Regions from separate parts of the Homo sapiens genome. Here regions 1 and 3 are each reported to be linked to region 2. Evidence: microRNA targets listed by miRTarBase, many of them from high-throughput screens and not tested one by one. Region 2 holds a microRNA gene; each other region holds the end of a gene's coding sequence.
The links. The annotated mature microRNA hsa-miR-5704 reads UUAGGCCAUCAUCCCAUUAUGC and lies in region 2 at 1,505-1,526, shown strand. An mRNA with a match to its seed (bases 2 to 7 or 8) in the 3' UTR can be bound and repressed. Matches are read on the target gene's strand: a 7mer-m8 pairs with bases 2 to 8, a 7mer-A1 pairs with bases 2 to 7 and ends in A, and an 8mer does both.

Region 1: miRTarBase lists TRADD as a target of hsa-miR-5704. Seed matches in the 3' UTR shown: 7mer-m8 at 3,155-3,161.
Region 3: the mRNA of TMEM64 is a reported target of hsa-miR-5704. Seed matches in the 3' UTR shown: 7mer-m8 at 896-902.

What each region holds. Positions count from the first base shown.
Region 1 is chr16:67,151,386-67,155,453 of GRCh38, forward strand. It overlaps TRADD (TNFRSF1A associated via death domain), which reads right to left. Exons shown (of 5, transcript NM_003789.4): 3 at 3,992-4,068; 4 at 3,711-3,909; 5 at 2,800-3,574. The coding sequence ends at 3,264. Among named protein-coding and RNA genes, the nearest start is that of B3GNT9, 2.4 kb to the left of the region's middle. RefSeq lists a silencer at 4,065-4,068.
Region 2 is chr3:131,983,359-131,987,426 of GRCh38, reverse strand. MIR5704 (microRNA 5704) reads left to right here and starts at 1,496; the gene lies at 1,496-1,572. All of the region lies in intron 1 of CPNE4 (copine 4), which reads left to right.
Region 3 is chr8:90,622,275-90,626,342 of GRCh38, reverse strand. It overlaps TMEM64 (transmembrane protein 64), which reads left to right. Exons shown (of 3, transcript NM_001008495.4): 3 at 481-4,068. The coding sequence ends at 672. Among named protein-coding and RNA genes, the nearest start is that of LINC01030, 18 kb to the right of the region's middle.

The DNA of each region.
Region 1 (4,068 bases), not on the chromosome of region 2:
TCTTCTTACTCCTGGTTCTGCCATGCTCCCCACCCCCAGTAAACACACGCACGGGACAAACAAGGCAGCCCACCCAATCCTCAGGGCAACTCTGCCAGCAGCTCTCATTCATGCCCAGATGGGGACACTGGGGGGCTCTTCGGGGAGTTAAGTGACTTGCCCAGGATCCAAAGGCCAGAAAGCTCTGCCCCCAGGTCTTCTGAAATTCAGGCCAGGATTATTTTATCTGTCCTTGCCCCGCTCATTCATCCACTGGGATACAGAACAGGGGGCCAACCCAGTCTGCTTTAATTTCACAGGCAAGCACTTCAGCCTGTCTCCCCGGGGGCTAATGGACCTGAGCCCAAGCCAGGTGCAGTTCTGAGTCCCCTGGTCCCCAGCATAGCCTACTGCAGGTAGAAATGATCAGGCCTGTGCAGCTGCAGGTCAGACAGGGCTGGCAAGGATGGGGACAGCTTGGGAAGACTCCTGGCGGAGGCCTTGGCTAAAGGATTGCTCTGGGATGCAGGTGGACAGAGGTGCTCTGCAATGGAGAGCTAAGTCCTTGCGCAGCTCAGCTGCCAGCTCTCTCTTTCTTGGTCCCAGCCCATGTGGTGGAGCCTGGAATAGACAGCCTCTACTGGTCTCTTAAGAACCCAGCCCCATCCTCTGTCCAAGGGCTATATCTGCTCCTGACGGCTTCTTCCCACCAATGTTCAATCTTAAAAAGCCACCTCTCTGGCTGGGTGTGGTGGCTTATGCCTGTAACCTCAACACTTTGGGAGGCTGAGGTGAGTGGATCACTTGAGGTCAGGAAGTCAAGACCAGCCTGGCCAACGTGGTGAAACCCCCATCTCTACTAAAAATACAAAAATTAGCTAGACATGGTGGTGGGCACCTGTAATCCCAGCTACTTAGAGGGCTGAGGCAGGAGAATTGCTTGAACCTGGAAGGTGGAGGTTGCAGTGAGCCAAGAACACACCACTGCACTCCATCCTGGGCAACAGAGCGAGACTGTCTCAAAAAAAAAAAAAGGCCAGTCGTGGTGGCTTACTCCTGTAATCCCAACACTTTGGGAGGCCAAGGCAGGTGGATCACTTGAGGCCAGGAGTTTGAGACCAGCCTGGCCAACATGGAGAAACCCTGTCTCTATTAAAAATACAAAAATTAGCCAGGTATGGTGGCACGTGCCTGTAATCCCAGGTACTTGGGAGGCTGAGGCAGGAAAATCACTTGAACCCGGGAGACGAAGGCTGCAATGAGCCGAGATCGTGCCACTGCACTCCAACCTGGCAACAGAGTGAGACTCTCTCCAAAAAAAAAAAAAAAAAAAAAAGCCAAATCTCCACCCTGAGCCTTACTCTTTTTGGTCACAAAGTAATCAGGAGTCCTCTGCTCCAGCTTTCTCCGCGGCCTCACCTTCCATTCCCTCCTGTGATAAAGCTTCGGGCTGCCTCCACCATGACTCAGAAAGACCCCTGACTGGTAAGCTCCTTTTAACTGAGTCCAACAGACACTCCTCGGTCTTGACTACCCGCTCCATTATAGTGGGTGGGTAATCCCCTGGTTTCCAAATCTCCTGGTTTTCCTCCTTCCTCTTTGGCTGTTCCCATTCTGGTTGGTGTCCTTCAGGACATCCCCTGGGGCCACCCCACCCACTCCCCACCTGTCTATTCATCAATCTTTAGATTGAACCCTCATCCTGAACTCAGAACTACAGACCCAACTACCCTCATACTCTCTCCCCGGATGCACTGCAGGAACATCATGCTCAACTTGTCCCAAACAGAGCAAGCATTTCATTTCCCCCCAGGGCCCCATCCCAGCAAGCAGTCCCACCCACCATCCAACTGGCAAAGGCAGAAACTTGGGGCCCTCTCTCAGCCATTCCTCACCCAGTGTCACCAGGCCTGTTACTCTTCCACCCACACAGCTCTTTGGTGGTCATCCCCTTCCCTCCATCTCTGCTGCTACTGCCCCAGCCTGGGGCCACCATTTCCCCCACCCCCATCCTCATCAACCTCCCAGTCTTGGCCAGGTGCGGTGGCACATGCCTGTAATCCCAGCACTTTGGGAGACCAAGGTGGGTGGATCACCTGAGGTCAGGAGTTTGAGACCAGCCTGACCAACATGGAGAAACCCCATCTCTACTAAAAATACAAAATTAGCTGGGCATGGTGGTGGGCGCCTGTAATCCCAGCTACTTGGGAGGCTGAAACAGGAGAATTGCTTGAACCCAGGAGGTGGAGGTTGCAGTGAGCCAAAAACGTGCCATTACACTACAGCCTGGGAAATAAGAGTGAAGCTCCATCTGAAAAAAAATTAAAATTAAAAAAAAAAAAAAAACAACCACCTCCCAGTCTTAACTCCCGAAACTCTTCAAAGGCTTCCTACTGGCCTCATTGAAAAACCCACAAGCCTTCCTCAAGCCCTTGCCTGAGACTGTGCCCCGAACACTGCCCTTCTCTCGATAGCCCACCCCTATGCCTACTCACACTCATCTCCTCCAGGAAGCCTACCCCCTGTCCCCTGCCCAGGTTAGGCCCCTTCCTCCATCCTCCACAACTTCTCTTTTTTTTTCTTTCTTTTTTTTTTTTTTTTTTTGAGACAGGGTCTCACTCTGTCACCCAGGCTGGAGTGCAGTAGCTCAGTGACATCTCACTGCAGCCTCAACCTTCCATGCTCCAGGGATCCTCCCACCTCAGCCTCCTAAGTGGCTGGGACTACCCAGGCTGGTCTCAAACTCCTGAGCTCAAGCAATCCTCCTATCTCTGTCTCCCAAATTGTTGGGATTACAGGTGTAAGCCACTACTACTTGTATTTCTCACATCAAAATCCGTGTTATACTTTATTATCATTGCTTAACATTCGGGGTCCCACGCTGAGTGTGAGCTGGGGGCAGGCAAGATTGATTCCTGTTTTACTTCACTGCAGTATCTGCAGCACCCAGGATGAAGTCCAGGACACCAAAGATCAAGGTGCTTCATGAGTGAAACTGTAAGGGCTGGCTGTAAGCCCCGCTTCTGGGATGGGAGAAGGTGAGGCTGATCTCCAAAGCAGGTCCCCCCCACCCCACACTCTATCAAAGTACCTGAGGCAGAATCCCCAATGATGCACCCCCAGTGGTCTGGCTCCTGGGGAAGGCAATCAACTCTGCCCCAGCAGGTCCAGCAGATAGGCCAAGTGGAGTTTCAGGGTCCCGTGGATGGACAGGGGTTCAGCAATAGCCGCAGAAGGAACCCTAAGGCCATCCAGGTTCTCCAAAAGCTGGCTGCACCCCTGGTCTAGGCCAGGCCGCCATTGGGATCGGTCAGGCCCAGCAAGTCCTCTGCCAGGCTGGTGAGCTCGTTCTCCTCGAGTGCCTCCACCAGGCGCTGCAGCGTGGCGCGGCGGCCCTCGGCCTGCACGAAGCGCCGCAGCAGCTGGAAGGCCTGCTCGTACAGTCCCTCGCGCTCGTACTCGTAGGCCAGCGAGTCCAGCGCCGGGTCCCGCAGCGCCCGGCAGCCTCGCTGCAGTGAGCGCCCCACCTTGCGCCATTTGAGACCCACAGAGCGCGCGAACGTCTGTTGGTCCTTCAGGCTCAGCGGCCGATTCACTGCAGAGGGAGTGGGGAAACGGGGTGAGGGCGGGGACCCCCAGCGCCGGTCCCACCCATCCCCACCCGGCAACGACCCCTGCCCCTCCCCAGACTCCAACCTCCTGGTGACCCCGCCTCTCCACCTGCGCCTCACCTACAGGCTGACCCTGGAACAGAAAAGTCTGGGCAGGTGGCGGCGGCGGCGGCGGCTTCACCTCCGACAGAGAGGGCACCGGGGGCTGCAAGGGGGCCGAAGCGACCTCCCCGTCGCCACCCCGGGCCCCCGAGCCGCACTTCAGATTTCGCAGCGCATCCTCCAGCTCAGCCAGTTCTTCATCCCGGAGCCGGTCGGGCTAGGGGAATGGAACGTGCCGTCACGGGGGACTTAACCGCGGATCCCCGCCCTACCCCATCCTGACCCTAGCCCGGCCGCACCTGCTGGGCTAGGATGCAACTCAAACAGCGCTCCTCGTCCGCCAGCAAAGCGTCCAGCCGCTCGGCGCCGGCGCGCA
Region 2 (4,068 bases):
TGACAAGAGCCAAACTCTGTCTCAAAAAAAAAAAAAAAATCTGTACAACTTAATTTGTAAAGTGTACTAACCTAAAGTGTACTACTTATTGTGTCAATTTTGTTACCTTTTCCCACATCAAATGTAGAACATTTCCAGCACCAAAGAGGTTTTCCTTCTTCTTTTCAGTCAATACTCTCCCAGAGGCAACCACTGGTTTTACTTCTACTATCGTTAATTAGCTTATTAGCTTTTCATGTTCTTGAACTTACAAAATACCACTATTTTTTACTTAATATTTTCAGAGTCTGAATTTTCACAAATCACCCACAAATCACACATTTGAATATGTGCACATTCAAATTTGAGAAGTGTTTTTATGGAGCATTCATTCTCACTGCTGGCTGCACATTGATATCAACTGATGCCTAAGTACCACTTCCAGAGATTCTGATTTAATTGGCCTTGAGTGAGGACTGGACATCAGGACTTTTTGAAAATTCTTAGGGGATTGTAATATGCAGCTGAAATTTAAAAACACTGTTCTGTCTATCCTTAAGTTCTTTGTTTTTTTTTTTTTGTTTGTTTGTTTTTGTTTTTTTTTGTTTTTTTTTTTTGAGACCGAGTCTCGCTCTGTCGCCCAGGCTGGAGTGCAGTGGCGCAATCTTGGCTCACTGCAACCTCCGCCTCCCGGCTTCTAATTTTTTATATTTTTAGTAGAGACTGGGTTTCACCATGTTAGCTAGGATGGTCTCGAACTTCTAACCTCGTGATCCGCCTGCCTGGCCTCCCAAAGTGCTGGGATTACAGGCGTGAGCCACCGGGCCCAGCCTCCTTAAGTTCTATGTTGCACAATTCCTCCTGTCTCTGATCCATGCTAGGAGAGAACAGTCGTTACCTCTCAGAATAAAGCAGATCTTGCCTAGAGCAGATTTGCCTGCTTTTTTGTTTGTTTGCTGCTTTTCTCATCTCTTATCTTCCCTAGAACCTAAAGGAGATGCACTTAAGCCATTAGGTTGTTGCTCTCATCATCCTGTGGGAACAGTGGTGTGCTAGAGCTGACCCATACTGGCTTGTGAGGGCAGATTGTGTGCTTCCAACTATATACAATGTCATTCAAATTATTCAATGACATCATGTTGGTAGCTTGAACTTGGCCATGGTGGGAATATTTACACAACAGAAATTGGCAAACACTACCAATCAGGTTCTGTTTCCTCCCTGACTTCCTCCTAGAGAGCTGGTTTGCCATTACACACCCCCTATAGGTAAATACTGCTAAGGAGAAGGGCTTAATCTGGTTAAAGCAGTTGTAAAATGATCTTTCAGTAGTCTTCTCAAGCGATGACTTTTCCTAACCTCAAATTTACCATTTAGCAGTTACTAATATGTTTAAATAATGTTTTCAATGCATCTACTCCTTTGGGAAATATAAAAAGATGGATATAATTATCGTATTTCTTCCATCCATCTTGGTTGAAAACCCTTAGAATTATTTCCAATAGTCACTATTGTCTGATCTTGTTTAGGCCATCATCCCATTATGCTAAGTCCATGGGCAAACATAACAGGATGATGGCCTAAACAAGACCAGACAATTATCCCATCATCAGTGTTGTGCTCAGTACATGGACTAGGTAGCAGAAATCAGTGATAGCTTTTATTACAGCATCTCACTTAAGGTTTTTCATTGAATATAGTATTCCCTTGGAGTTGATGGGCATATGACTTAATTGGTTTCAATTGGTCATTGAATTCCACTGATTACGAAGTGATCCAATATATTTTTTATTTTGTATATAAACCTGTGGGGCAGCACTGAAAAAGAACTTATGATTCTCAGTGTTTAAAATAAGATCTGGAGTCAGATAAACCTGTTTTTGAATCTTGGCTCTTCTACTCCTATTTGGGCAATCATAGGCAAATTATAATGTCTGTAAGTTCCATGTTTCTCATCTTTAAAATGGGTATTAAAAATAGCTTGCAGGATTATCCTGAGGATTAATTAACATAAAACAGAAATGCACTAAGCTTCTAACATGATGCATAGTAAAACACTTAATATCTTTGGTTGGGTCCCCAGGAGCAGACTCCAAGACAAGGATTTGGGTGCAAGTAGTTTGAGAGGTTGTTATAGACTGATGTGTCCCTTTCAAAAAACTGATATGTTGAAATCTTAATCCCCAATGTGATGGTATTAGAAGGTAGGAACTTTGGGAGGTAATTTAGGTGATGAGGGTAGAGTCTTCATGAATGGGATTAGTGCCCTTACAAAAGACAACTTAGAGGGCTCTCTAACTCTTTCTGTCATGTGAGGACACAATGAGAAGTTGACACTCTGCAACTTGGAAGGGAGCCCTCACAATGCTGGCATCCTGATCGCAGACTCTCAGTATCCAGAACTTTGAGAAGTAAATTTCTGTTGTTTATAAGTCATGCAGTCTATGGTAATTTGTCATAGCAGCCCAATATAAGACAGAGGTCACCCCAGGAAATACTGGTAGTAGATGGAGAAGTCAGACAAGAAAGAGAAGAAAGCCAACAAGGAGTGGATTACCACACACATTTGCATTGTGAGTAATTGGAGCTTAATCTTACTGGGGAACTCTGAGAACCAATGTGGAAGATAGACCTCAGAGGTATCTCCCTAGAAGACAGAAGAAACTGAGGTATTAATCTACCAACTCCTATCAGTCATCAATTCTTAATTCTCTGGCACTACAACCTTCCATGTATATGAGCAGAGAAGGATCCAGTGACCAGAACAAGCCCTTAAGGAAAGTGATGTAGGTGATACAGTTGGAAGATGGGCCAGCATATGCAAAAATCGTTCAGGGAAAAAGGGACATAGGCAGGCACTGATATCTATAGTAGCTCAATAAACACTTGATAGCAGTAGCTATATATGGGAGGGTTTTCATGCCAGAAGCTTGTTTACACATCAACTACTTTGATAGAGGTGGGGGAGAAGAGTTAAAGCAGCATTAGTTCATCTCCTAAGGTTTGTCCCAGCTCTAATATTTACAAATATCTCATGGTGTATTTCTTTCTGTATGCACAAGCACTGCTCTTTTTGGTGAATTAAAATCACAAGAAACCCTTATGCAGTTTTACTTTTAATAATGGGAAACGGTACTGTTGTAACCATTAAATTCTAATATGATAAAAGATAAGTTTATCTAGAGGCAGTGCAGTTCAGTGTAAAGACCACAGGATGAAGAGTTAGGAGATCTTTGTGGAGTCTTTACTCAGTCACTTACCATTTGTGTGGCCTCTTAAAGGAGTAAAAATCTACAAGTCTCAACTGAAAGGAAAACATTACCTGCCTAGCTAATGTGTTATAGTGAGAGCACATGGAACAATGCTTTGAAGAGGAGTTGTCTCAGATGCTGAGCTCTACATAGGAGCAGTCAAGTTTTCTACCAGTCAGAAGGGCAAAATGCTTCTGGTTGCTTTTGGCAGGAGTACTGAATTCACTGTAAGGCTTGATGATTACCTTGTGCTTCTCCCATATCCACAGCACTGAAGTAATTTGTGATTTGAAGACACAGTGACTCTCTTGGGGCACATTAGACACATAGATGTAAATCAATTGATTCCAAGGATTCTGTGCAGCTGTTGTCTTCGATGGATATAGTGGCTGCAACTGCCTGTTTCAGTTTCCTCCTGGAAAACTCTTGATATCAGTCTCTGACATCTTGGAGTATTTCTTTGGCTCCACAGACATTAAGGAAAATCATCTATAGAAAATATTTATATAATTTTATCTTTGCTTGTTCTCAAATCCAAGGGATGATCATGCCAAAATTTTAGGAGTGAAATATGTCTTTGCCCACAGTGTGCCTACCACTTTATAAATTATACCCTTATACAAAGTATTGGTTTTGAATTTTGGAACTAATTATAACTAGGTAAATGCTTAACTGGAAGACTTTGGAATTTCATGAAATCAGTGCCTTTAAAGTTATGCACTTTAAAGAGATCTTTTTGTATTAATTAGGATATCCAGTAAGTCTTTTTGTGCAGCTCCACGTCGTAGCAAGGAATTTATAATATGTATGTATTTTAAAGATGCATGTGGCATTCTAG
Region 3 (4,068 bases), not on the chromosome of region 2:
TAATACTTTTAATTTTGTCTTCACCAGGTAGTTCATTGCAAATAGTAGTGCTTCTCACTAAGTGGGCTTAGAAATACCTATGGACATTTATAGTCATGCAAAGGTATAATACTACATTAATTATACCAACAAAGTTTAGCCAGCTGTTACCTCTATTGTAGACATTTTTTATTCCTTGAAGAAAGCTTTTTGGTACAAAGAGACAGGTTTGGCTTGTATCAAGTGAACCAAAAGGAATGTGTGTTTTCCTAATACCATGTCATGGTTACCTGTAGACTTTGGTCCTCCACTACCAGGAGAAGCAGCAAAGGAAAGAATAAACAATAACTGTGTGTAAACTATTTAAAAATGTATAACCCTTTACCTACCATCTTTGAGAAGCACCCTGTTTGAAGCATTTCTAAGCCAAATATTTATTGGATTTATTTCTTTTTTTTGTATAAAATATTGATAACTGTAATGTTTTATTTTTATTCACAGATTATTATAAGTATAGGCCTCATGTTTTATGTAGTTCATCGAGCTCAAGTGGAATTGAATGCAGCTATTGTAGCTTGTGAAATGGAACTGAAATCTTCTCTGGTTAAAGGCAATCAACCAAATACCAGTGGCTCTTCATTCTACAACAAGAGGACCCTAACATTTTCTGGAGGTGGAATCAATGTTGTATGATTCTAATGAGATACGTGATTGTCAAGAGCCTAGTGTGCTATCTAAGGTCTAGCAGTCACTTCACTAGTGGGCAGAGACAAGTTCTAATTGTATTACAGCACAAACAAAACTGACTAGTTTTTAAATTGCACAATTTTTTTTTTTTAAAGCAAGAATCATTTTCTGGGTATGTAAGTGTAAATGTAGATGCAAATTTGGCTGCACCTCTTTATCATGCCTGTATTGGCCTATAGGTCTGCACTTTAGTGTTTTTTAATTGTTTTATTTCTGTGTATTTACGAACAGAGAAATAACCCAAATATTATTTCTGCTTAGTGTCTTTATTTATAAAGCCCATGAGTAGTTTGTATGCATCTTTCCTACTTGTAAAGATGAGTAAAAGTATGCAGTTTTAAATTTATAATATTATTGGATGTTCTTTGCTTTGGTAGTCTTTCCAGAAAGGATAAACAGTGGTTTTTGTTTTGTTTTGTTTTATTGTTTAAGTGGGACCACTTAGCTTCCCGTTTCCTTACTAGTTAAAGAACAGACATTAATTTTCAGTTGAATGTATTTTTGCAGGCATCATATTGTTACAGGGCCATTTACACCTATTCACAAAGCTTAAATCCTACCTTGTGGGACTGAAGTGCTCTTAATATAACTGTTTATTTTCACTGTGTAATATGCAAAGCAAAAGGGAAATTATTTGGTGGATGGTAGCTCAAAATTGGAACTCTTGTTCTAATTCAGTTACATTGGCTTTACCCTCCTTAGATTTTTCATCAAAGGGCTGTCCCATTGCAATCTTACTAAAACATTTTGTTAAAATAAACTCTTTTCCTTTTTATATTAATAATTAGGCTTTTAAATAAAGATGTTATTCCTTTAAAATGGTGGGCTTACCATCATTGAAGATGTCACTCAGGTGGCCTTGTTTGATCAAAACGCCTTTTTTAAAAACCAAGCTTTAAAAACATGTTTATAATTTCATGAAGTACATATATATTGTTCCCATAGTCTTCAGCTTTAAAACTATAAATATGCCCAAATTTTGTTATTTGCCCTACTTTAAGTAGGTTTATTGTGTTTGTTTTTTCAGTACTTGTTTTTCTCTGATAAGACTCAGGAATTCTGAAATGTGAAATTGTCTCAATTCTTTCTCTTGTAGCATGAATCAAATGTATTTATTAATAGCACTTATGACTATAGAATATAATTTGGCATATGATTCATATTACATATGTATTCGTTTTATTTTTAAAATAGTTTATAAACTTAATGATTTTTTTTTACAAATGAGGTTATAGATATTAATGCAAATTTTCTGGTAGGTATCTCTTTTTTTGCTATGATGATTCCAACTTATCAGAGACCTCCCATTTGCCTTTTCATTACGGTGAAAGCTTTGCCCTCATCTACTAAAGTACAAAGGAATTCTTTGGAAGCAGATTATTCTAGTCTTATGCTAGAGATGAATTTGATCATTTTAATGTGTGATCTTTTTGCTCTATCAGGTATAATTGTTTTCCTTTCCTTTATAATGGGTAAGTTTTCTCACCTTTGAGTAACAGTAAAGTTCATTTATATGTCCATACCTAGAAGACCAGTGCAAATACTTTGAGAGCACCTGGGTCTACAGGACATAATTGGCATCTAAATCCTCATTTCTTGCTATTAGTAGGAAAACAGATATAGTATTGTAATACCCTTATTCTTTTTGAATCCTAATTACTCATTTCGGTTTTTTTTCTCTCTTTTGAATCTAGTTGCTGGTTTTCGTTTAATGATTTTAGTTTAACAATCCCAACCAACAATACATTTGATTTATTTTTTTCTGTCTAACCTGACAACCTTTTTCTTGTGCTTCTTGTTTGTTGGTTAGTTTTTGTGAAAGGAATCATTGTTTAAGATCACTGTTTTCATACTTGTTTTACACTTCACGTATTTTGAAGTACATTTATTTACTAAGCATTTGTGACTTGAATAATTTCACCAAATGAATACATTTTGGTAGTTTGTAATGAGTTCTTCTAATTGTTACACTTTGCTTGGTACTTAACAATAAATATGTAAAGGTAAAAGAAATAATTTTCTGTATTCTGCCAATCTTAATTTTATATAATAAATCATCCATTTTTTTCTTAAAATAGTATGGATTGACTGTTTCTAAAATACCAATCTGTGGCTGTGGTTTTTCTTTTCTTCAGCATTTCCAGCATCCAAGTAAACAATAGTCCCTTATAGTCCTGCTACTTGATGGGTAAATTTGGTTGCTGGGTTTTTAAGTTGCACTCACAATAAATCGTGCAAAGCATTGTCATGCCTTATTTACTCCATTTTTAATCCTGCATCCCAGATTTATGGCAGCAACACATATCTACAGGATACTTTTATGTTGTCCAAATATTGCTGTCAGTCATATGTACTTATAAAATGTCTCCACTCATGTATATTTATAGAAATGAAATGTCAAATTTCTCAGACTGTTAAAGTGCAGTATAAAGTTGCTTAATGCACACTTAAAAATGATATATAATTTCTGAATCCTATGAAATATGTGTTCTTTTTTAATTCTTTGGGAGTTTTCTTAAGTTTTACATGTTTTTTGGTTTATTGTTAATGATTTTGTTTACTCTTTGCCAAATTTTGTCATGTAGGTTATTTTACAATAGCACCTTTAAAAAAAATGTATATGCTAATTTACTAAGCATATTCATGTCCATTTTTATTTGATCATCTGATTTGTGAAATAACTTGAAATTTGTACTGTTTGGTTTGTGAAAATAATATTACCAAATCTCTGTCATTAGAATGTGTACTTTATGTTCAGAAGTGACTGTGGGTTTATTCAGAGCCAGCCATTCTCTCCCTTGATGCACTTTGTAACCAGCTACACATGCTTTTAGGTGGCTTTTCCCTGATAGGGTCAAGTATATGACTATAAAACATTTTTCTTGTGAAGCTATTAAGTTCATTAGTTACTCTTATTTCCCCTTGTTGTAACTAAGTGGTGCAGGTATAAGCATATCCCCAGCATTCCTGTGTGTGTGAATGTGCACTGCTGATTTGGACTGTTCTTGAGAAAGGTGCTGTGACATATGTCAATATTTGTTAGCTCTGGGGATATCTTTAGAATGCTTGAGAAAGTTGCTAGGTGTGTGCCACATTGGTGCAGGTAAATCCATGCTGTTCACAGCCAAGCAGCATTTGCAGAGAAAAGGAGAGTTTTACATAGACCCCAGGAAAAACAGTACTAACCTGGTTGATGGCCTTGGTGGTGGAATTTTGTTTCAGCCAGAGGCTACTCATTATATCAGAATGATGTTCAGTATAACACTATCTGATTTTTAGATTGGTCGATTTCTGTTGTAATCAAGTATTTAGGATGTAATCTTTTTAAAGTCATTGCTTTAA